4 separate regions of the Homo sapiens genome follow, and regions 1, 2 and 4 are each linked to region 3. The links come from fine-mapping of genetic effects on gene expression. A gene starts in region 3. Each other region holds a variant in brackets. All regions are shown on one strand. Distances are between the middles of the regions.

Region 1 (6,168 bases), 31 kb after region 3:
ATCCTGAGGATGTCTGGTTTCCAGATGGATTTAGAGGGGACATGAAGTCTGCGGTCCCCTCTGAGTCCTGTGGCTTAGCTGTGTTCTCTGTGGCTCTAGCCACAAGAGCGGGACTGTTGGATGACCCCCAGAGAGAGGCAGGTACTAGCCTCCCAACAGGAAGACCTTTCTAACAGATGGAGGAATGTACACAAGCAGGTGTCAAATGATCCTAGCTCAGCCTTGGCACAGGGCAGGACCCAGACCTGGCAAAGGGAGGCCGGATGGATCCCAGACTCTTTCTGAGTCAATGCATCACACATCCCTAGAATATACCAGCCTCTCCACTGCAGCGGGGCCTCTGAGCTTGCTGGGCCCTCTCTAGTGAACGCCATTCCTCACGTTTCACTCATGGTTGGTTCTACTTGTCCTTTAAATCTCAGCTTTAACGGCGCCTCCTCTGGGAAGCCTGCCTGCATCATCTGCTTGACAGGGATCCCTCCATTTTTCTGTTGCAGCCCTCGTTTAATTCCTTTGCAGCGCTCATTGCAGATTGCAATTATTTCCTTGTGCATTGGTTTACTTGTTATTTATTATCAGTCTCTTACACTGGTCTGTGAGTGCCGCAAGGTCAGAGACTAGAGCTGTTTTGTTCTCCATTGCATCTTCAGCACCTAGTACAGTGCCTGACACATACTAGACACATTTGTTGAAGAAATGAATGCATTAACTCCAAAATTAAATTGCACTCCAAGAAGGAGAGCATTTAGAGATTTTTCTCCTTCATTCAACATTTGAGTACTCGTTTTTTATTGCAAATACAATCCATCTTATTAAATGTGTATTCAAATTTGGTACATAATTTTTGATCATTTTCATATAGATACACATGCCTTTCATTATGGTCAGACCTCCTTACAAAACAAACTTTGAGGGACTAACCAAAAGCTATCATTGTCCTGAAATTGTGCCTATTTGTTGAAAAAGGGCGTGTCATCATCTAGAATGTGTAAACTTTGCCACTACAGTGGTATCCTTTGGGGCAAGTTTTGATCTGACTGCGTGTTGGTAGCCGGCCCAAAGAGATGTACCCTGGAGCTTGGGCCCAGGCAGGTTCTCCAGGAAGCTGCCTGCAGTGAGCACTGACACAGACACAGGGGGGTCCACCTCAGAGTATGACCTCCAAGAAGTGTCATGGGGCAGAATTAATGTTGACTCTGGTGCCTGGATCCCCCCACTGTCTTCTCATGGCTACCTTTCATCAGTGAGCCCCTCTTTCTTCTGTCTCCAACCTTCCTTCTCTGGTCTCTTTTGCCGTCTGCATAGCAGTTTGCTCAAGCCTCTTCATAAAAAACAAAAACACAGGCTGGGTGCGGTGGCTCGCGCCTGTATTCCCAGCACTTTGGGAGGCCAAGGCAGGTGGATCGCTTTAGGTCAGGAGTCTGAGACCAGCCTGGCCAACATGGCGAAACCCCATGTCGACTAAAAATATAAAAAATTAGCTGGGCGTGGAGGCACGCACCTGTAATCCCAGCTACTTGGGAGGCTGAGGCAGAAGAATTGCTTGAACCTGGGAGGCGGAGGTTGCAGTGAGCTGAGATTGCACCACTGCACTCCAGCCTTGGTGACAGAGCAAGACTCAGTCTCAAAAACAAAAACAGAAACAAAAAACAAAATCTTTCACATTACCCTCACCTTACCATAACCACCACGCATACACCCTTCTCTCATCCCTTTATGGCTAAATTTCTGAAATGAGCTTAAAAAAACCCTCCACATCCATTCAAGGATGTGTTCAGACATAAGTAGGGATATGACATAAAGTTCTGGTCTTCCAAAGGTCTTTGAAACTCATATTCTGAGCTCTAGTCTGTAATAAGTTTCTGTACTAGTCTGGCTCTAACAGTCACAGGTGAGGCAGGCTAACAATCATCACTGCTTGCTAGTGTGCACAACCCGAGTAGGCTGGCCGAGAAGTTCAAGTCAGGGACTAGAAAGCACTGGGGTAGCTTTGGCAGGACCTGAGCTGGACTTTGAAGAGTGGACGAAATTTGGAAAGGTGCAGAGGAAAGAAGAGGGCATTTGAGCAGATTTTTTCATAACGGCATTTGTGAAGGTGGGTTGGCATAGCCTGTTCTTAGGCTCAGGGAGCTGGCTGAAGCATGGGGCAGGCTGGGGCGGGATGTGGGGGCCTTTGAAGACTTTGACAGGTTGGGGCACTTCAAGGCCATGAAAAACAGCTAGGCTGTGCTTTGTCTTGTTGGGGTGGGGCAGGGCATGCTAGGGAGAAAGGGAGTGTACGGATGGGTGGTGGGGTGGTGCCACCCAAGCCAGGCTATGACAA[G/A]ATTGATCTGGTTACTGCAGGAGAGCCAGCCTGGCAGTGTAACAAGGAAGGCTGGGGCTGGTTGCCTGTGGGAAGCCTTTGCAGTGTGACATGGCGAGGGCCTAACCCATGGAAGCATGGGAGTCCATGACCCACTAAGGGCAAAGGATAGACCAAGCTGGCTCTGAGATGTTGAGCCTTGGAGGAGCGGGGCCCAGGTGTTCTCTGATGAGGCATTCCACCATCAAGCTGTAATCTAGGCCATAACACATCCTCTAATTGCAATATTGCAAAAAATATATGGACTGTATGTGAACCCTGAAATTTACAAACTGTTAAAAATTTATGACCTATTTGGAAAAATTTGAATTCTAATTGGATTCGGTAATCTTAAGGTATTAATTCTTAACTCTCTAGGTGTGGTCATGGTACTGTGGTTTTAAGAGCCCTTATGTTTTAGAGAAACATATGAAATATATACAGATGAAATATATCTGGATTTGTTTCCAGTTATCCAGGTAGATAAGGGGAGAATGGGCTTAGCATAGATGAGGCAGGACTGTTTCTGAATTGTAAACTGTCCAAGCTGGGTGACATGGGGTTCATTCCACTCCTCTCTCTACATTGTATACATTTGAAATTTTCTGTAAAAACATTCTGGTCCTTGGATAATGCAGGTCCTACACCCTGGGCCTCAAAATTCCCAATCAGAAATCACGAGAGGCATTTTGAGCTGTGCCATGTTAATCTCTTGTTACCTTTCGAAACAGGAATTCTGACCACTTCTGTTTTGCCTAGAGCAGGAAAAACACATAGACAGGAAAGAAATAATGCCTTGGCTTTATTTAGAAAAACAAACTGTGAAAGACACGTGATCCTCCTGTATCACGATCATGGGAGGAGTCCAACCAACTGGAGAGGCGAAGTCAAAACTCAGAAGAGCAAAGGCAAAGTTTTAGCTGGAAATAAATGCTTCTTTTAGGAGAGTCACTCCCAGTGGAGGATTTCTGGCAGTGGAGCACTTGGCATGAGTGTGAAAGCTGACACTGAGTTGGAAAATGGTAGCCCAGGGTGTAGCGGCCAGCATAAGGCCAGCACTGTGCAGTCACATGTCACAGCTCAGGGAACAGAAAGGCCTGCTGTTGTCACCTCTGATATTGGTTGTCCCGGTGCCCACCCTCATGGCACCTCTATCTCTCACATGCCACAAAGACAGGAGGCTGCTCTGACAGTGTCCCCAGCTATGCAAGGCGGGGACACCCACTAGCCATTACATGCTGGGGGAGGGCCCTATGAACTTCCTTGGCAGGCCGTCTCCCAGGCTACAGGGCAGAAATCAGATTTCTTTTTCAATTAGTGCCCCCAAACAGAAACCATTTGCACACAGGTAAGCTAGAAAGCTAGGAGGGTACATTTTGAACCTGAGCAAGTGATCTCATTTTTCCTCCTCTTTTTTGAGGAGAAGAAATACATGAGGGAATTAAGGTGGGTGCACGTTCCCTGGGAAAGGAACAAGCATGAAACAGGTGTTGAGAGTTCAGCTTAGTAAACATGTGAGGGCCCACTCTGTGCCAGGCACTGTGGGAAGTGCAGCGATGGATGAGCCGTGGTCCTTGTCTTCAAGGACAGCGTGGGGAAGCCAGGAAATTCCAGGTGCACAAAATCTCCTGGATAAATACTGAAGGACACATAAGTCCTGTGACCCAAGCAAAGTAACTGTTACTTAGCCAAAGTCAAACTTCCGGCAAATCTCTTAAATCTCTATTTTTCACCCATAAAATGGTGCAATTCTGCCTTGCTTACCCCGTAAGGTTATAGAGTTATAAGGATCAAAGCTACTACAATATAATAACAATGAGGAGGAGGAGGAGGAGGCGAAGACAAGGCTTTCTTGACCTTGCTGACCTACAGACCTGTGACTGGTGCCCAAGGACGAACTCCGCTGTGGATGGCAGCCAGGACCAGGGCAGGTTCCTGATGCAGATGGCTGTCTGATCCCAGCCAGTCCTGGAGCACCGGTGCCCTGTGCCCTCATTCCCGAAGCTGGTTCCCCTGGGCACCTTGTCACATGCCCAGTAGCTGCCTTGACATGAGCAACCTTTCTGACTCATTCAAATTTGCCTGACAGATGGAGAAGGTGCTTAGTCCTAGTATTCTTAATAAATATCAGAGCTTAAGAGCCAGAAGGAACCTTCCAGAACATAGCTTCCACACACATCCCATCCCCACCACTACGCCCACCACCCCCACCATTTGCACGAAGGGCAATGGAGGCTCCAGCAGGGAACATAACCCACTGAAGTGTTGGGACAGCTGATGCTGGAATCTCATTCTCTGGACTCCCCTGGTCCAACATAGCTGCTTCTCTTTCCAAGACAGGTTTTGCCAACACCAACTCTACTGCCTTTAATATCCTTAGTCTTTCCTGCCCCCCAAATACCTTATTTGGTCCTAACTTCCAATAAAGCGTATTTAGAGCAAGAGAAAAAGGAAACATTCCCCAAGTCACATTTTCCCAAGCCCTCTGTTCTTTTTCACTCTTTGGGAAAATGTTTCCTAAATGCCCATGGGGGCACGTGACCCTACTTATAATATGGGTTCACAGAGACGAAGATGAGGGGTCCCTATCTTCACGAGGCTCTCGTTTAGCTATCAGTAAAATGCCCTCTTGATGAAACCTTTTTGAACCTCCACTGTGGGAAAAGAAAACCCTTCTAATCCAGTTCCCTTTAGTCATGTGTGCAAAGAGAAAGCTTCTCAATGATGCATCTCTTTACTTCCTGAGTTTTTTGCATTCATGCCTGGCTGGCAGCTTCCGCCCTGCTGGCTGTGGGCCCAGGCAGTATTGTGAGCACAGAAAAGGCTGGCAGCCTCACTTAGGGAGTCTTACCCTGTGCTGTGTCTCTTCCTGACCCTGGGGTTCTACATGAGGCCTCACGGTTGCTTCATTCTGCTCCCCGCTGCCCCTAAAGCATTCGGTTTGGCCCCCAGCTGAATAATTGTCTTACTCCAGTTTGGCCCTGGAGTGCCTGCTTTGATATCCTCCAGCCTCCCTCTTCCCTAGTCACCATCTTGGTGTAGTTGAGTTATTTTGAGGCCTTGAAAATAAGAATAGTAGAGCTCAGCGGAGACTCTGCCATGCCCAAGTGAGAAGACTGGTGTCCAGTGAAAGGTTGGACTGGAGATTCTGCAATTCCGTCATGCTGTAACATTTCTGAAAATGCATAGCCTAAGGTTGACAGCCTGAAAAATCAGTAGGGTTCCGATGTGTGTGTCCGGACCTAGAAGTAAGAACTAACTAAGCCTGGGACCAACGCCTCATAGCATTTGAAATGAACCTGGGTACCAAGTATCACTTCGGATTCTTCCCACTCTCAGATACGGTCCCCTAGTTAGAGAGCACGATGTAGGGGGTTGGGATTCTGTGGGGCCAATATAACATTTACACCCTTGTGAAACAGTGCAGGGGTCTACAGAAGAATTCCCAGAAGAGGTGGTGTTCCTTTCCCCTTTTCTCTATTTACCCACCTTCCTTGTGTTGAAATACTGATGAACGGACCCCCAGATGGCAAAGCTTGATCCCCAGCTCTGATAGAGCCCACAGGACACCCTGGGTCTACCCTAACGAGCCATGACATGCCAATTCTTTGCTTTTCTGGAGAAACCTTGGCCTGAAAGTCTGTTTAATTACCGTGGAGATAATCTTTTAAACATAGATTTACATTCTTTAAAGACTTTTTCCCTGTGGGAGTAGGAAAGTTCATCTGCACATAGCATGTTTATTTTCATTTCCAGGGGAGGAACTGCTATCTGGTAGTTAGCAAGAAGCTTGAGCCCTGGAGGAATTTCTTTTTTTAAAGTCTGTT
Region 2 (6,168 bases), 600 kb before region 3:
GCTATTTTGCTATTTTCTGCATTTGGGGCAAATATCCCAGGCATTTCCCTGTATGTAGCTTTTAACCCAGAGCCACTAAGAGTGTACCTCTTAAGTCTGGAGTCTGCTGGCCCCTTATTGAGCCATTAAGCTGAACCAGAAAACTTTCTGAGTTACTCAAGCAGTGGGTATTTTGGGTGGCAAGAAAACATGGGGCAATGATGGCAAATGGCAGTAAGGGGACGGGAGGACCCCCGGGCAAGATGGTCACTGGGAAGTCTCTGAGGACTTAGATCTGCTCCTGCTGGTCACTGAACTGAGGTGCAGAAGCAGGTGGTTGGTGCCCTTCCCTGTGGGGAGGGCCCCTGGAGCACTCAGGGAAGCTGGCTCAGGGCTGCCTGCCACTCTGCCATGGACTCCATTTCATGCTTGCTGTCTCTGTCCCTGGAGTAATGGGTTTCTGAGCCCAGCCCTGGGTACTAGTGCCTGAAGGGGAATAATAATGGTCTAGACTGCTCTAACTATCTCAGAGGCTTTGTGGACAGCCGGTTGGGTATCTGACTTTGAGGCTTGGCTTTGCCATTAACTCTGCGATGACCTCAGGCGAGTCACATGACCTATCCTTATGCCTCAGTTTCCTAATTGTACAACTCTCTGTTTATACCAAGTCCTCTGACTGTGATGCTCCCCCACTATGATGATTAACCTTGTTAGGCTGCCTCCTCTCCAAACTCTACCCAAACCTGGATCCCCACCAGCCCAGTCTGCTTATGGACATTGTGATTTCATCTGGTGGGTCCTAGACTTGGGTTCTAGCTGAGATTTTGCAATGACAAGGCTATGTCATCCTGATCAATAACCTTTCTGGGCCTCAGTGCTCACCTCTGTACACTGGGACTAAGAATACTAACATTCATTCCTCATAGAAGGAATGGACAGAAGGGAAGCCCAGTCCCTGCCCCATCTCATCCACAGGTTGTCATCAGGTGGGGATGCAGACTGGTGGCATGATTTGTCCTGTCCTGGCAGAATCACTCTGAATTTGTGTGACCTGGTAGCTGACAGTGGGGTCATTTCCCCAATGACCACAGTGATGACCTAATCTTGTGGGTCTGTGTCCCCACAGTGGCCAGTTTGCCATCGTGAAGAAGTGCCGGGAGAAGAGCACGGGGCTTGAGTATGCAGCCAAGTTCATCAAGAAGCGGCAGAGCCGGGCGAGCCGGCGCGGTGTGAGCCGGGAGGAGATCGAGCGGGAGGTGAGCATCCTGCGGCAGGTGCTGCACCACAATGTCATCACGCTGCACGACGTCTATGAGAACCGCACCGACGTGGTGCTCATCCTTGAGCTGTGAGTGGGGTCCCCAGGACCCACAGGGTTGGGGGGCAGCAGGGGCAGGCAGAGCAGTGGAAACTCCAGCCACAGGCCCCAGGGGGCAGCAGCAACCAGGCCTAAGCTCAGCCCAGAGGAGGTGAAGTCAGTGGTGGGCAGATCCCCTCTGTCTCAGTTACCCCCTTCCTCCTTACCCGCTTCCTCCTCCTGAAACTGAGCCAAAGGAGGGGCAAGCTTGCTGAATAGCAGGGGCAGAGGGCAATGGCCTAAGTCTGGCTTTCACTGGATCCTGGAGATCAAAGGGAAGAAATGACTGCACTGGGGTCTTTTCCTGGCTGGAGAAGCATGTGGGAGGGTGAGTGGGACAGATGGTGGGGTGGGGCCAGGGGAGGCTGTCAGCGAGGGCTGTGTACTATGAGGAGGGGAAGTACAAACATCTCTGGGCTCTGCGAAGCCCTTCTCCAGCCCTTTCCTGGGGAAAGTCCACTGCATTTGTGCTGTGAATGACACCTTTATTGTTATAATAATAGCTATTATTTAGAGAGTCCTACTGTAAGCCAAGAATTTGCTAGGCGCTTTCTATCTGTCGTCTTGTTCAATCTTTAAAGACTGTGATGAGGGAAATGTCTTACTAGTGCAGACAGGTTATTTTGTATTCATTGTGCAAGCCAAGTACTTCTGTACCTTATTTAATCCTCATAACAACGCTGTCACACAGACACTCTTATTATCCCCATTTTACAGACAAGAACACTGAGAGGCCAGGACACTTACAGGAGCCTATAGCCAGGAAGTGGCAGGACCAGGACTTGAGTCCACACGGCCTGTGCAGACAGCTATGAGTGTGAGGCGGGTTGGCCTTATGCTGGCTTAGCAGAGGAAGACCTCACAGTTCATGATGGAATTTGGATAGATGACCTCAATACTCTAGGGTTTGGCTAGCCACGCTGGTATCGTCCTGGGCAGGTGGGGCTCTGATAAACAATAGAGTTTGAGTTGGGTTGTGGACAAGTTACAGTGGCTGTGTCCAGTCAAGCAGCAAGGACTATATAAAGAATGTTCTGGCCTGGTGCAGTGGCTCATGCCTGTAATCCTAGCACTTTGGGAGGCCAAGGCGGGCAGATCACAAGGTCGGAGTTTGAGACCAGCCTGGCTAACATGGTGAAACCCCATCTCTACTGAAAATACAAAAATTAGCCGGGTGTGGTGGCAGGTGTCTGTAATCCCAGCTACTCGGGAGGCTGAAGCAGTAGAATTGCTTGAACCCGGGAGGC[G/A]GAGGTTGCAGTAAGCCGAGATTGCATCACTGCACTCCAGCCTGGGTGACAGCAAGACTCCATCTCGGAAAAAAAAAAAAAAAAAAAAAGAATATTCTGAGGCTCATAAGCATGTATACACCTGCCTGGTAGCGGGAGTGATAGAATCTCTCAGGAATCCCTGATTTTGTGCCCTTGGGCAAGTCACCTCAATTCCCTGAGCTTTAGTTCTCATCTGTAAAGCAGGCAGCCATCCTTAACCTGCCTACAGACTCGGTGGACCACCTGACATTTGAGATCATTCTAATTTGAGAACTATGCTCTGGTATTGGCAGGATATAGATTTAAGTAGCAGATGGACATTTGCATACTCTTGCATTTGATTCTTAAATTATCCATCTCGGTGTTTAAATGTATAGAATTGCCTGTGCTCTTCCCTTCGCTAGCTCCCAGTGTCCTCCATGTTTCTCCCACGGGCCTCCCAGCTGGTTGGACTACTGGATGCCTGCCCTGCGTGACCCAGAGAGAAGCTGAGGGTCAGCAGTCGGCATCCTGATTCCCAGCAGAGAGTGACAAGTGCACCTTTCTGGAAAGGCCGAGCCACTTCTTAAAAAGTTTATTATGGGGAGGAAAAAAAAAAAACTAAGCAGGAATGGACAAGAAATTACATTTATAATCCTACAACCCAAACACAGCTATTTATGTTTTTCTGTGGTTCCTCTCAATCTTTATCTATTTGTATACAATCATTGTACTTGTATAATTTCCTGCTCTACTTTTTTCCCCAATTAACATAATTCTAAAAATTGGCTTTTCTCTTTTAACTGACTATATGTTTCACTGAATTGCATACCAGTATTTCCCTTGTCTTAGTCCATTTTCTATTGCTTATAATAGAATATCTGAAACTGGTTAATTTATAAGGAAAAGGTATTTATTTCTTACAGTTATGGAGGCTGAGGAGTCCAAGGTTGAGGGGCCACATTTGATTAGGACCTTCTTGCTAATGGGGACTCTCTACAGAGTCCCCCAAGGCAGCCCAGTGCATCACACGGTGAGGGGGCAGAGTGGGATATCTCAGGTCTCACTTCTTATATAGCTACCAGTCCCACCCATGTAACCTGTTAATCCACTAATGCATGAATGGATTAATCCATTCATAAGGACAGAGCCCTCATAACCCAATCACCTCTTTTTTTTTTTTTTTTGAGATGGAGTCTCGCTCTGTCGTCTAGGCTAGAGTGCAATGACGCGATCCTGGCTCACTACAATCTCCACCTCCTGGGTTCAAGCTATTCTCCTACCTCAGCCTCCCAAGTAGCTGGAATTACAGGCACCCACCACCACACCCAGCTAATTTTTGTATTTTTAGTAGAGATGGGGTTTCTCCATGTTGGCCAGGCTGGTCTCGAACTCCTGACCTTAGATGATCCGCCTGCCTTGGCCTCCCAAAGCGTTGGGATTACAGGCGTGAGCCACCGCACCCCGACCCAATCACGTCTTAAAGGTCCCACTGCCTAATACGGCCGCATTGGGAATTAAATTTCAATGCGAGTTTGTAGGGCACAAATAGTCAAACCATAGCATCCTTATTGTTGGACACATGCTTTTTATTTCCTAGCTTTTAACCATTACAAATTTTACTGATAAAACAACTTTCTTCTCATGATTTTCTCCTTTTCTTTTTAATTAATTCTTTCAGCAAAGTCCTGAGGATTTAGCTAACATCCCCAGGAATGGGATGACTAAGCCAAAGGCTGACATTTTTGGGACTCAATATCCTCACTTTTCAAAGATGGTGCTGGTTAACCATTACTACCACAACGTAGGAGTGTTGCTGTGTGCCTGCAGCCCTGCCAGCCCTGGGTCATTTGTTTTGAAACGTGTTTCATTATTTATTGATCTTTATAGCTATAAATTGATACTTTCTTACTATAATTGGCATGCCTTTAATTGCTGGGGAAATTGCCTGCTTCTTCCTGTTTGTAGAACCCTAGGAGTCGGTGGCGGGGATGTGGCAGGTAAATGCTCTTGAGATGTCTGTGTTTTTCCCAACAGGGCTCATGGTCAGCCAGTTATGTGCCGGCTTCTTGTGAGCTCAGGTGCACCATCTGTAACATCAGTTGTCACGCTGGTGCTCCCATGACTTGCTTGGGCCTCTGTGCTTATTAAGTTCTGTCCCGTTTCTGTCTCCCCCTTCACTTCCAAGCTGTCTCATTGTTCTCAGGGTGCCTGTCTATGGACTGCTAAGAATTTATGAGATTGGAGAAGACCCAAGCGTTCCAAGACTGTCCCTAACCCATGTATGGCCAGGTTCTGAGAGGGAGGACCTCCCAGGAGAGGAGTTCCTGGGCTTTTGTTTTTGTTTGTTTGTTTGTTTTTTGAGATGGAGTCTTGCTCTGTCACCCAGGCTGGAGTGCAGTGGCGTGATCTCGGCTCACTGCAATCTCTACCTCCCGGGTTCCAGTGATCCTGTGCCTTAGCCTCCTGTGTAGCTGGGACTACCAGTATGTGCCCCCATGCCTGGCTAATTTTTTTTGTATTTTTAGTAGAGGTGGGGTTTCACTCTGTTGGCCAGACTGGTCTTGAACTCCTGGCCTCCAGTGATCCACTCGCCTTGGCCTCCCAAAGTGCTAGGATTACAGGCATGAGCCACCGCACCCAGCCTCATGGGCTTTTGTTGCTTAGACTTAGTGACTCCTGTTAGGCTGGTCAGAAGTCTTGGCCTCGTGGTCCTCACTGGGCCCTAATAGGTTAGTGGGTTTGCCCAGTAAGTGTTAGTATCCACCTACTCAGTTGAAAGCTGCCCAGTTGCAGGTTTTATGAATGAGTCTACGCTGATCCCACTGCCCCTCTCAGCAACTGTTGTCTGGTGCAGGGCTTCCGCCTGCTTTCTGCTCAAGTGGCCAGCACTAGGAGGACATGCCTGGCTCTGATCTAAATCCCTTTCAGTTGTTATTATCCCATCTGTGACCTCCCTAGAAGCAGCTGCCTCTGGTCGTGACTCTTGAAGGCAGGACTGGGAAGGATTTAATTGTCCATATAAGTTGACTTCTGTATGGGGTATAGAATATATTCAAAATCTCAGCAGCTTAACTCATGTCACATGTGGAACTAGCCCTGAAAAATGTAAGTCTCCCTGTGAAGGTTGGGCTGGCCTCCCATCACAGGCCCCTGACTGCTCTGGGGCCTCCTTGATTCCAAGCCTGTGGAAAGCGATACCGTGGTGGTTGCATACCAGAGAACTGCCTGGCAGAGTGCTCCAGGGTGGCAGTGATGCTTCCCAGGTTCCTGAATTGAGCCCAGCTTCCTGGGCCCAGCAGCTCTGGCAGCATTTTTCCCCTATCGCTGCCTGTGCAGGTCATTCATGTATACATTTCCAGAAGAGTCTGAAAAGCATTTCCAGCAGGCATGCCACCCTGCAGGGAGGAAGGAGGCAAAGGTCAGATTTGCAGGAAGGGGATGATCCTGGGAACACTAGGAGAAGAGATGAGGCCAGGTCGTGAGGCTTTGTTTTTCATCTTAAAGCTAAAGAGATGTGGGATGTAAGAGGAAAGAAACTTGGAAGGAGATGGGGGGTGGCTCCAGGGCAGAGGTCTTAGAGGG
Region 3 (6,168 bases):
AGCAGGTTAACAAGACTAGAGAAACACTCCTGTTTCTCTAGCACAGCCTGTAGGTCTAGCACAGCCTGTAGGGACAGAAAGGTGTGATCCCTTTCCTCCCCCATCATAAAGGTCACAGTTGACACTCAAATAACAAAAGACAGGCCAACAAGTGACACAAGAGACTTCAGAAATGAAGACCCAAAGACTCAGGGAGAACGGTGTTTCTGCTTAGGTTTGATGAAGAACATGGATGGCCGTATAGAAATGTGATTGGAGAGAAGGGTGTGATCTCATAGTGATAGACTGAGGGGAACCCAGCAAGGCCTGTCCGTTCCAATTCTTCTTGACCTCTCTGTGTAGCATTGCTTTCTCCTGGGTATGGGGCAGGACCCCTCTCGAATGAGGGTCTTTAAAGGAGAAGGGAGAGGGGAGAGAGTGATGTTTCTAGATTTTATGGCTTGCTGTGGAGGAGAGGGGCTCTACTTTCTATGACCTGCCTGGGGAAGAGGGATTCTGGTTTCTATGATTCACTTAGCGGGAGAAGAAGGGGCAGGAGACAGGAGGATGGGAGAAGGTCAGAGAGACCTTGTTTCTGAGGCCTTTTCAGTTTCCTTCAGTTCAAAGTACTCAGCATGCCAAGGTGCCATACTTTGGGGTATCATGTTCTAAGCCCCCCAAAAAAGTGCCTGACACACAACGGGTGCTCAGTAAATAATGTAAGTCCCTTTCTTCTGCTGCCACCCCAAAAGAGGGACCCTCTCTCCCAGCTTCCTAGTGAGGATGGAATGATGTATTGAACCAGCATGAGTCCCATCTACTTACCCGTTACTAAGGGGAATTGTGATAAGCTCTTCATGTGTACCCCACTGTGCTGTTCTCCTATTCTCAGTTCATCTCTTTGCATCTCAACTTGGAAGGTAAGAACTTAATCAGGATGCACTGAACAATTGGCAGAAACTCATGTGAATGTAACTATCTTGTCCAGTTCCTTAACCTGTGCTAAGTCCAGGCAGGCACCTGAAGAAAAAAAAAAAAAAGCATGAAGGAGGCTTTTGCCCAAATGGCACTATACTTGGGGGATTCTGAGTAGGGCTGAAACAGCCTTTGCAAAAATTATAACTGAGGAAATTATGGCAGTGACAAAGATCAGACCTAAATGACTCAGTCTTTCTTCTAACTTTCATGCTGTCCTTATTCATTCCTGGGCATAGGCCAAACTAACCTTAGAAAGGAATTCAGTTTATGGTTTGACTCAGAAACAAAATCAATAATAGCCCTTTCCCGAAAAGACCCCCTTCTTGCCTGGGTGCCAGTCTGCCTTTGTACGATTAATCTATTAGTTACAACATTAGAAATTATGGTTTAGGGGTCCTGCGGCGTCAGGCTGCAAGAGTCTGAACCTTCCCAAGTTGCTGCTGGGGATAACATCGCTATTGTAAAATCTAACATCCTATTTTGCAGACCCTGCACTGGATGGATCAGCTGACACCACTCAGACCGTGTGTGATCTGGCTCAACCAGTTCTGCGATCCCACCCAGGAACAGAAGACTGCAAGAAAACGTTACTTCAACCCCCCTGTGATCCCATCTGCAACCTGACCAATCAGCACTCCCCAAGTCCCAAGCCCCTATCTGCCAAATTATCTTTAAAAACTCCCAGAGGCAGGGTGCAGTGGTTCAACGCCTGTAATCCCAGCACTTTAGGTGGATCACGAGATCAAGAGATCAAGACCAGCCTGGCCAACATGGTGAAACCCCGTCTCTACTAAAAATACAAAAATTAGCTGGGTGTGGCGGCGCGTGCCTGTAATCCCAGCTACCCAGGAGGCTGAGGCAGGAGAATCGCTTGAACCCGTGAGGCAGAGGTTGCAGTGAGCCAAGACCATGCCACTGCATTTCAGCCTGGGCGACAGAGGGAGACTCCGTCTGAACAAACAAACAAACAAACAACTCCCGGAATGCTTGGGGAGACTGATTTGAGTACTGGAATCCCAGTACTTTAGGAGGCCAAGGTAGGTGGATCATTTGAGGTCAGGAGTTCCAGACCAGCCTGGCCAACATGGTGAAACCCCGTCTCTACTAAAATTAGAAAAATTAGCCGGGTGTGGTGGTGGGCGCCTGTAATCCCAGCACTTTGGGAAGCCAAGGCAGGTGAATTATCTGAGGTCGGGAGTTTAAGGCCAGCCTTAAACTGGCGAAACCCCGCCTCTACTAAAAATACAAAAATTATCTGGGCATGGTGGCATGTGCCTGTAATCCCAGCTACTCGGGAGGCTGAGGCAGGAGAATCGCTTGAACCCGGGAGGCGGAGGTTGCAGTGAGCCGAGATCACGCTATTGCACTCCGGCCTGGGCAACAGAGCGAGACTCCGTCTCAAACAAACAAACAAAGGAACGAAAACCTCCGGTCTCCGGCACGGCAAGCTCTGCGTGAATTACTTTCTCCATTGCAACTCCCCTGTCTTGATAAATGGGCTCTGTCTAAGCAGCGGGCAAGGTGAACTCGTTGGGCTGTTACAGGACCAGTGACAGACCAAGGGCATGCCACTGAAGGAATCCCTAGACGCACCCTTCTGGATGTGAGACAGGCGGATCTCACCCACGCCTGCCAGCAGCTCCTCGGAGAACTGTGTTCCTGGGTCAGCCCTGGCCCAGAGGAGCGCCGGGGACCCGCAGAGTGCTGCTGAAGTCAAGGCTACAACTCACCTAGGATCTGGGGCGCCAGCCCTCCGGTGGGCAGGGCGTTCTCCTCCCCCACCCCCTCCCCGCACGATGACATCAAGTGTTTGGCGTTGAGTTGCTCCATAAAAGCTGCCCGGGGAAGCCAGGAGAGCGAAGGGCGGACGTACTCGCCACGGCACCCAGGCTGCGCGCACGCGGTCCCGGTGTGCAGCTGGAGAGCGAGCGGCCACCGGGAGCCCCCGGCACAGCCCGCGCCCGCCCCGCAGGAGCCCGCGAAGATGCCCCGGCGCAGCCTGCACGCGGCGGCCGTGCTCCTGCTGGTGATCTTAAAGGAACAGCCTTCCAGCCCGGCCCCAGTGAACGGTAAAGTTTCCGCCTGCTTCTTTCCTAACACTCCTGAGCGCTCAGCCGCCCCTGGGCTGAAGGCTCTTCAATGATAAAGTAAAATCATTGCTGCGGGGAGCAGGGAAGGTGTAGTACCAAATAGTAGATTCTCAAGAAAGGATGCTCCGTTTTCCTTTGCTGAGGTTGGGTCGGGAAGCACGTTGCTTTCTAGTGGCGCTTGGCGCAGATTTGGTGTTAAAATGTTTGCGTGTACTCCCGGGCACCGCCAGCTCTGAAGATGTGGCTTGGGAACTTGCTAACCAGGGAGGAGATGCAAAGCCAAGATTTAAAACAGCGTTCCCCTGATCCACGTTTAGAAAGTAGAGACATGACTGTGGCATTCTGATTGGGGTAAGCACAGAGAAAGGTTTGCTGTGCCCCTGTGCAGAACCCGCAGACAGTGGTAGGCGCTTTTCTTTGGAGGAGAGGATCTTTACCATTAAGTCTTACCTACAAGTCAAAGGGATGATGCATCCCATTCTTAATCATTGTTTTTCTCCAGGAGGGCTCTACTATGCTGAATGTACGTGTGTGTGCACGTACACACACACACGCACGCGCGCACGCACACAAACCACACACACACACACACACACACACACAGCATATTTCTGATTGTAATTAGAACACTAAATCCCAAAAGGCTGGAGGCTGAGGGACTGAATGGAGGCTCCGTGGAGTGACAGGAGGAGGTGGCAGAGGGGACCTGAACTGTGGGCTCACGCCGGGCCAGTGAGCTAACACGTGTACAGCCAAGGCTGGTTCATTAATCTTTTGGAATAAGAAAGTGATTTTGGACCGAAAGTGATTTTACTGGCTGAAACTAGATTCTTCCTGGCGAGGCAGTGGTGGTGGGAAATGTGTCCTGCTCAGCAGCATAAAAGCTCTGAGCCTCCTCTCTTGGAGGTCACAGTGCCCATGGGGAAGGGCAGGGGAGCCAGGCTGTGGATAACTCTTAATTAAATTCCAGTCAACTAGCTGGCATGATGTGCTTGATATTATCTCCCTCATCTGGTCAGGGAGAAACAGAAGCGATGTAACAGAAGTTGGGAGAAAGGAGCGATGTAAAAGTGAAAATCAAGTTTTAAAACCACAAACTTTACATGTTTCCTTTTACGAAAGCTGCACTGAGACCAAAGTTTCCCTGGAAATCTCTTTAGTCCTAAGTTGCTCCAAGACCAAAGGGAGAAACAGCCATTAGTTGGCCCTCTTTCCTATAGCTGGTTGCTCCTCTCACTCTGGGGCAGCTCTGCCTCCCTTCTCTCTCTTTTCCTGCCCTTCCCTGTTCTCTTCCCTCCCTCCCCTTCCTTTCTTCCCTACTTTCCCTGCTCTTCCTCTTCCCTCTCCCTTTCCCTCCTCCTTATCTCCTCTCCCAATTCTCCAAGTTGGGACTGGGGAAGTTTGTAGTCAAAACTCCACTTTCGCCTCACTCTGAGGAAGGAGACTGCCTACCCCTGGGTAGAGCACAGCTTTTATTCTGTAAATTCTCATGCAGTTTCCTTGGGTTTTTAACTGCCTTAGAGGACAGGTCAAAGCAAAAATCACTGAGGTGTAGAATGTCAGCATGAACCCAAAGTTGGAGGTGGAGAGGAGTTAAGCTGAGTAATGGGGTCAAAGTGTGATCTGCTCTCTGCCTGGTGCATTTAAACTTCCAGCATTGGAGAATGTTCAAGAACAATGTCAGGGGCCCAGGAGGGAGCATAATAATGTGAAGTCAAGTGTCTTCTGGAGAAACCCTTGGAATTCTTAGTTGCCGTGGCTTTGGGGGGCATTTCAGTGAATTCTGCAGAGCTTGCCCTGCCCAAACCTGGTGTGGAGAGCCAGGCAGTCTTGGGCTACCCAGGAGATGGTTACTCAGGGAAAGTTCTAGCACCCAGCACAGGAAGCAGGCAGGGCCCAGGACCTCTGATATGGATCTTGGTAAATACCATTTTCTCTGGGCATTCCCTCCAGGGGAACCTCCCTGCCCAGTACCAGCTGGGTCTGCAGGTTCTAACAGGTTTCAGGCTGAGCCTCCCAGGTTTCCCAGATGGAACAGATAACCTTCCTTGGGAAGGAAACTATTCCCCTCCAGGAAGGGCCTGCTCCCTCAGGATGCCACTGAGGCCTTGGCCTGGCCTCGCTTGTGGAATCAGTTTAATCCTTTTAAGCCTTCTGTTCTTACAGCTAGAAGTGGGGAACCAGGGGGTGCAATTCCTGAATAAAGCACACTTTCGTGCGCGTGCACACACACACACGCACACATACACACACTTTTAGAGAGACTTCCTGAGGTCAGAGCTGAGCTGGGGCCCTGATCCTCACCCGATGAACCCCCTTGACTCACCATCCTCACTTACAACGCCGCTTCTCCCCAGCCCTCCAGCTCCTGAGCCCCTCCAGACACTGCCATTTATACCCAAAGTGCCGAGTCTGGAGTCCCAAGCCAGCTCACTCACAGAGAGGAGGGCAGGGAATGTTGCTCTGGAGGCTGCTGCCTTTCAACAAGTCCCCAGTCCTATGTCACCACCGCGACCTCACAGTCCCAGATGTCCACTCTATGACTTTTAGCCCTGAGCTTTCCAGAGTGTGATGCTGAGGCCTCATCTGAGGATGAGAACTCCAACAACAGGGAAAACCTTGATTAGCGAGCCCTGGGAGGGTAGCAGAAGATGTAGGGTATAAGGCTATGATTTGAATGTGAGCAGGTACAATGCAAACTGCTGGCAAGGCAGCAGTGCTCAGGCAGCAGATGTGTTTCTAGTGGCCTCCAGGATCACTGGAGTGGCCTGTGCCTCCTCAGGGGAAAAGTAAGGGTGAACTCCTCTGTTATTTGTGGAATTTTACATCCTGGGCCTCCAACTGTTCTGCCTGCTAAGAGGTAATGATCTGGCTTATTATATCTCTAAGGTCTGGGATTACATCTTAATAATGAACCTCTCACACAAAAGACTGAAGAAAATGTCCAGAAGAGGTTTTATGTCTTCTATAGCTTGGTTTGAAAGCAATGCTTTCTTTATTTTTTTTCATTGTTGTTTCAGCAAAGGGGTGAGCAGTAAACTTGGGGGTCACATACAAGTTTGGTTTCCCCGTGGTTCTGAATGTCTAATTACTAATTCAAGGGAGGTTGATCTTGGGACCC
Region 4 (6,168 bases), 42 kb after region 3:
CCTAGTCTGGGGGGCTGAGGGGGCTGGGGTTCTGTCCTCACAGTTGGAGTCAAGTCTTCTGCAGAAGCGACAGGCTCCCATGAGTCGCTTATCTCCTAATGGGTGGCTTCTCCCCCACTGCAGCTGCACATTGTCCATTATAACTCAGACCTTTATCCTGACGCCAGCACTGCCAGCAACAAGTCAGAAGGCCTCGCTGTCCTGGCTGTTCTCATTGAGGTAAGAGATATTTAAAAGGTTCTTAGGTGAAATTTGAAGCAGGGATGAGATTGGGATTCCACCTTTTGTTCCATGCATACCTGTTGATAATCAGCTGTTCCTGTATCGACTCCGTGTCAACTCCAGAGCAGGGGGTATCCTCCTGTAGTGCACCTTCTCTCTTGGCCTGGAGGCAGCACTTTCTGTGCCTGGGCAGCAGAAATGGGGAATGTTCTTTGGTCCGTTGGAAAAACGGGCCCCAACATCTAGCCCTGTTGCATAAGGCATGGAATTGCCCAGTTGGGGAGGACCTGTGCTGGAAAGGGATCATCAAACTCCATCTGCCCCATCAGATGCCTGAACTCTTGATACAACTCCTGCCATCCAAGCTCCTCTAGATCCAAGGGACCTCTAGATCAGTGGTCCCCAACCTTTTTGGCACCAGGGACCAGTTTCATAGAAGACAATTTTTCCACGGACCATGGACCAGGGAGGGAGATGGTTTTGGGATGAAACTGTTCCACCTCAGATCATCAAGCATTAGTTAGATTCCGTAAGGAATACACAGCCTAGATCCCTTGCATGCGCAGTTCACAATAGGGCTTGTGCTCCTATGAGAATGGGAGGCCTCTGCTGATTTGACAGGGGGCGGAGCTCAGGCTGTAATGCTTGCTTGCCCGCTGCTCACCTCCTGCTGTGCGGCCCAGTTCCTAACAGGCCACAGACCGGTACTGGTCCACAGCCTGGGGGCTGGGCACCCCTGCTCTATATGTACCCTGGAATGAATTCTTTTTTTATCCCAAGATAGAGGAATGTCTTCTGATTGGCTTGCATGTTTTTTTTTCCTAATGAGGCTGTATGTACCTCATTTCCCAACATGCTCATTTGTCTGACGTGGCTTTTGTGAACTCAGAGCTCCTTAAGTTCTGTGTGACATGGATGTTAGTCAAAGCCTTCAGGCTCATATCTGGATCATCAAGAGCACACACGGTACCCTATGCCCCAGGACATTCAAGCCCAACTCCTTAAGCTGAAAACAGGACGTCCTGAGATGCAAGAGGCAGGACCATTACACTAACTCCCAAGAGCCTAGTGATCCATCATAATTGTCCAGTAAAGTGGATCCTTCAGGCAGTGGTGGCAACATACCCACAGCTTTGCCCTTCTGATAGCAATCGTCAATCCTGGCTCAGCCTATCCTGTTCTGTCCCAGTTTAACCTGCCCTGTCTCTGTTGCAGATGGGCTCCTTCAATCCGTCCTATGACAAGATCTTCAGTCACCTTCAACATGTAAAGTACAAAGGTGAGGGGTCCTTGCATGCATATTCACTCTCTGCTGGAGAAGGAGGTAGTCAGCCCTGTGTGACTTTAAGAAAAGCAAACACAAGGGGCAGGTGCTGTCTGTGTTCACCAGGTTAAGAGCAGCAGGTTGTTGAACAATGTTGCAACCAGGTCCTGGGGTTAGATGACCCTGAAAGGGGCTAGTTCATGTTTCTAGGCTCAGTCGCTCTGTTCAGCTGCACTTATGCCCTACGGAGGGAGGCTGACACTATCACCTCTGCAACATGTCTCTCTAGGCCAGGAAGCATTCGTCCCGGGATTCAACATTGAAGAGCTGCTTCCGGAGAGGACCGCTGAATATTACCGCTACCGGGGGTCCCTGACCACACCCCCTTGCAACCCCACTGTGCTCTGGACAGTTTTCCGAAACCCCGTGCAAATTTCCCAGGAGCAGGTAACTGTCGTGCCAGACTCAGCCAGAGTCCACGCGGCACCTCAGTCCCCATCATCCTCCATATCACAATCAATGACTTGATTTCCTCATTTAGTTTCATTGGCAGCTCTTCAAAACCTCTCCAAATATCACAGGTGTCTGAAAGCACCGCAGAAATTCCAGGCTGAGCTTCAAAAGAAGTCAAGCTAGGCAAATGAATAGATGTCTCCTAGTTCTTTTTTAAAAAAAAGAGCTCTAAATCTGCATTTGCTAATATATCCTCAGTGGCTGGGTGGTATTCACTTCCCAGGCAGGAGAGAGCCTGGTTCCTTTACAGGGCAGAATAAAGACAGGATCAGATGAAATCATTTAAGAGATGGGATTGCAGCAATGACTAAGTGAGGGTCCCTGCCCCCAAGAAGCTCAAGGTCTAGTGCAAACTGGGGAACAAAATCCTTAGCCATCACCTCTAAAGCTTCTTATTTGATAGGAGATGAGAGAGAAGAGTAGAAGTCTGTGGGATCACCCGCGGGTTAGTGACAAAGCTGAGACCCAAAGTTAGGTCATCTGAGTTCCATGTCACTGCTCATACCTGTCCTCCACAGCCTAAATTCATGAGAAGAAAAATGGCTCCCCAGGAGACGGGGCTGGGGCCAGCACTACACCCTGGCTCACAGCCCCACGCCAGCTTCATGCGTCCAGGGCAGCCTCACAGCTGCTCCTCTTTACAGTAAGCTTCTGCTCTGAGTCACCTGGTAAATGGCAGCAGGTGGGTGGACAGGAATGAGGACATGATGAACCAAGAGATGGATGAAACATGTGGGGAAGCAGCAACATCCTACCTCAGAAACTGCCTTGGGAAAGGGTTATATAATCTATGCAGGTGCATGAAAATGCCATGGAACCCGCAATCAGATGGCCTGTGAAACTCTTAACTCCCTCCTTTATTCCTTCTGATATGACCATCAGAACAAGCCCTGCGACCCTCTGGTTGAGAGCTGGCCTCTAATTTAAGTTCATGAGAGGAACTCAGTCTCTGTGGAGGTTAAGGAGCACTCCATCACCCCAGGTTTCCCTCCACGCAGGGCAGATTCCAGGTATAATTGGAAACTAACAGCACTGCCTTTCCCTGAAGTCTCGGGTGCTGGGAAGATAAACCCAGCGCTGCCCAGCTCCCACTCACCCACTGTGGAGGGAAGCAGTTCTGTGGCTTTCCCTCTGCTTTCTAATATCTCCCACCCGGCCCCACAGAAGCTGGTTCCAGAGGCTTCTCCCAGGTGCAAGAGCGGAGAGCTAGCCTCTTCCCAGGGGATCAGGTGAGGAGGTCATTCTGCCTGC[G/A]GGCTATTTCTGCTCTTGCCCTCAGCTGCTGGCTTTGGAGACAGCCCTGTACTGCACACACATGGACGACCCTTCCCCCAGAGAAATGATCAACAACTTCCGGCAGGTCCAGAAGTTCGATGAGAGGCTGGTATACACCTCCTTCTCCCAAGGTGAGGAGAGGCAGTGCTGGGGGGAGGGGGTGCGGGAGTGTGGTGCCAAGACATTGGGATCTTCTGTGAATGCAGCTCTGGCACTGATGCCCTCAAGAAGTTGGCTGAGAGCTCCCTGGCTGCCACGGGAACCAGGCGCCTTGTGAGACTAGGTGTGGGGCTCACTGGGGTCCCCCCTTCAGTGAGTCTTTGCAGAGAAGCAAAAAGCCGAGGCCCCCAGGCACATGGACCAGAGCACTCTTTAAGCCTGGGAGTCTTGCACAGATGGGTAAGAGAGAATTCCCTGGGGACTTCTCTGTTCCAGACAATGATCCCTTCTCTAAGACACAGGATAGGACCCTTTCCATGAGATCAGACTTCTAACTTCCCTCCCTAGGCTTTCTTGGCATCAAAGGCTGCAGCCAGCCTATCTTAGGCCTGGCCAGGTGATTCATGCACCACCACCAAATGAGCAAGAATGTTCCTATGTTAGATGTAAAACAGTGAGTGTAACCCACAACCATGTCTAATGTAGCAGGGCCTGTTAGGCAAGGAAGCACCCTTGTGCACTGCATTTTTGTCTAACCTCCTTGGAGCTTGCATAAGCACAAGCACATAAGTTCCCAATTGAACAAAACTTAATAGCTTGGTTTCTTCCTAATGCTACAAGGGCTCGGGTCTCCCTTTCACAGCTGTAACCAATAACTCCCCAGTAGAACATTAACCGTTTTCCTTGCTCAGTGCCTACATCAACACTGCTGGAAACTGGGCATCAGGGGAAAGGGGTGAGGGAGCACTTTTGGGGCCCACACCCCTCTTCAGACCTCTGAGTTCACTTTCAAGCTCACTTTCTTACTGTAGATTCTCGACTGCTTCCCAGCTTGGGAATCTTCATGGCTGGTCTGTGCAGTTCCATTTCATCCCCAGCATCACGTGTGGACCAAACCGGGCCTGGCGTTCATATTTAAAGATAACCCGTTCTCACCTGCAATCCCAGCACTTTGGGAGGCCAAGGCAAGCGGATCACCTGAGGTCAGGAGTTCAAGTCCAGCCTGACCAACATGGTGAAACCCCATCTCTACTAAAAATACAAAAATTAGCCGGGCACGGTGTCTTGCCTCCTTTGGGAGGCCGAGGTGGGTGGATCATGAGGTCAGGATTTCGAGACCAGCCGGACCAACATGGTGAAACCACGTCTCTACTAAAAATACAAAAATTAGCCGGGCGTGGTGGCACATGCCTGTAATCCCAGCTACTCAAGAGGCTGAGGCAGGAGAATCGCTTGAACCCAGGAGGCAGAGGTTGCAATGAGCCGAGATCACACCACTGCACTCTAGCCTGGGTGACAGGGCGAGACTCCGTCTCAAAAAAAAACCAAAAAACAAAAACAAAAGAAACCCGTTAACCCACTTGTCAGAATCTGCTCTCCTCGTCTCACCTGGTGCACTTTTTTGGGTTCCTTTCTTATTATATGAGGTTATAACGATCACCTCCTAAACTTAGTTGAACATATGGAGACTGTATTTGAAGGCCCTTTCCAGGAAGCTTTAGAAACTGACCCATCCTTACGGTCAGGATTACATCATTCTCTGTCTTTTCATGAAGAACTGCCCAAGAATTTGTCTTTTGTGTTTTCTCCTCTCCAGGTACAACTAATTAAGATCATTTCCCTCTTTCCTCAGTTTCTCAGTTGGAAAACAGAATCTGTGAACAGTAGCCTTCCTGAAAATTCAAAATCCATGTGATGATAACTAACAGTTTCTTTTCTAGGAAATGAACTGAGTGCATGGAATGTATCTGTTATGGATACAACGCTGTCTTTTCTCATTCTTCTAAGTGGAGAATGTAGTATCCAAGGGTTAAATGGAACTACTTCAACTCTTAAAACCAAAAACATAAAAACTCTGCCAGGAGATTAGGAACTTTGCCCACATAGATCAGATAGAATTTTGCTCGCGATCCCAGGACCCCATTGCCGGCTCTGTTCTCTGAGCTCACCTATGCACACCCAGGGAAGGGGTGGCACATATTCTCCTTACAGTCAGGAGGCCTAGGTTCAAGGCCTGGCTTTGCTTCCTCCTGGCTGCAGGCTGTGGACAAATCGTGTCCCTTCTTCAGGCCTTGGTTTCCTCAGCCACAAAATGCCAGGTAATCCCAGCTACTCAGGAAGCTGAGGCAGGAGAATCGCTTGAACCCGGGAGGTGGAGGTTGCAGTGAGCCAAGATCATGCCACTGCACTCCAGCCTGGGTGACAGAGTGAGACTCTGTCTCAAAAAAAAAAAAAAAAAAAAAAAAAGCCAGGTTGGATTAGGTGATCTCATGTCCTTTCGGTGCTAATATGTTGTGATGGTTAAGTGGACACTAACAACTGCCAATCCTGACTTTACATTGCAGGGACAGTGTTTGAGGGCAGTTACAGAGGATCAGAAGAAACCGGGCAGGAGCTTGACTCTGACATCCAAAAGTAACCCCCGCTTGTAACGATGGACTATGGCATTGGGGATAATTAGCCATCTTCTTAGACCGGCTTGTGTCTAAGCAGCTGCTTGTAGTGGGGCAGCGTAGGCAGGTTTTTAGCCAAGCGCTTCAGTAGATTCTCCCAGTCTGGATAGGGGAGCTTGAGGGGCCTCTAAGCAGAAGTCTGGAGACCATCTCCCAGCTTAGGACGTCAAGATCAAAGCCCAAATGCAGCGTTGCCACTGCTCTTCCTCCACGGTTTGCCCAGAGCTGGTGCTTCCACAAGCCCAGGTTGGGACCAGCTTTCTCCTCTGAGTGAGACTCTGTGGC

Direction of the effects. Alleles are on the strand shown, and positions count from the first base shown. SD is a standard deviation of normalised expression in the study named. Not every link is listed here.
As copies of G replace A in region 1, the expression in esophagus mucosa of the gene that starts at base 2,816 in region 3 goes up (large effect, 0.90 SD a copy in GTEx).
As copies of G replace A in region 4, the expression in sun-exposed skin of the gene that starts at base 2,816 in region 3 goes down (large effect, 0.77 SD a copy in GTEx).

The links. PIP is the estimated chance that this variant, and not a neighbour inherited with it, causes the effect.
Region 1: its variant is fine-mapped to the expression of CA12 in esophagus mucosa (GTEx, PIP above 0.99).
Region 2: its variant is fine-mapped to the expression of CA12 in cerebral cortex (GTEx, PIP 0.99).
Region 4: its variant is fine-mapped to the expression of CA12 in sun-exposed skin (GTEx, PIP above 0.99). The same link has a PIP of 0.9 or more in esophagus mucosa and unexposed skin.

Annotation. Positions count from the first base shown.
Region 1 is chr15:63,347,532-63,353,699 of GRCh38, reverse strand. The region is part of intron 2 of CA12 (carbonic anhydrase 12); the gene reads left to right. Among named protein-coding and RNA genes, the nearest start is that of CA12, 31 kb to the left of the region's middle. The variant G/A (reference allele first, on the strand shown) is at 2,324.
Region 2 is chr15:63,978,692-63,984,859 of GRCh38, reverse strand. DAPK2 (death associated protein kinase 2) reads left to right here. Exons shown (of 12, transcript NM_014326.5): 3 at 1,106-1,327. Among named protein-coding and RNA genes, the nearest start is that of DAPK2, 65 kb to the left of the region's middle. The variant G/A (reference allele first, on the strand shown) is at 2,584.
Region 3 is chr15:63,378,494-63,384,661 of GRCh38, reverse strand. It overlaps CA12 (carbonic anhydrase 12), which reads left to right and starts at 2,816. Exons shown (of 11, transcript NM_001218.5): 1 at 2,816-3,026. The coding sequence starts at 2,942. RefSeq lists enhancers at 2,092-2,611, 2,612-3,132.
Region 4 is chr15:63,336,053-63,342,220 of GRCh38, reverse strand. CA12 (carbonic anhydrase 12) reads left to right here. Exons shown (of 11, transcript NM_001218.5): 5 at 124-219; 6 at 1,438-1,501; 7 at 1,776-1,933; 8 at 3,276-3,402. LOC124903506 (a long non-coding RNA gene) reads right to left here. Exons shown (of 3, transcript XR_007064676.1): 2 at 300-407. Among named protein-coding and RNA genes, the nearest start is that of CA12, 43 kb to the left of the region's middle. RefSeq lists an enhancer at 3,096-3,992. The variant G/A (reference allele first, on the strand shown) is at 3,251.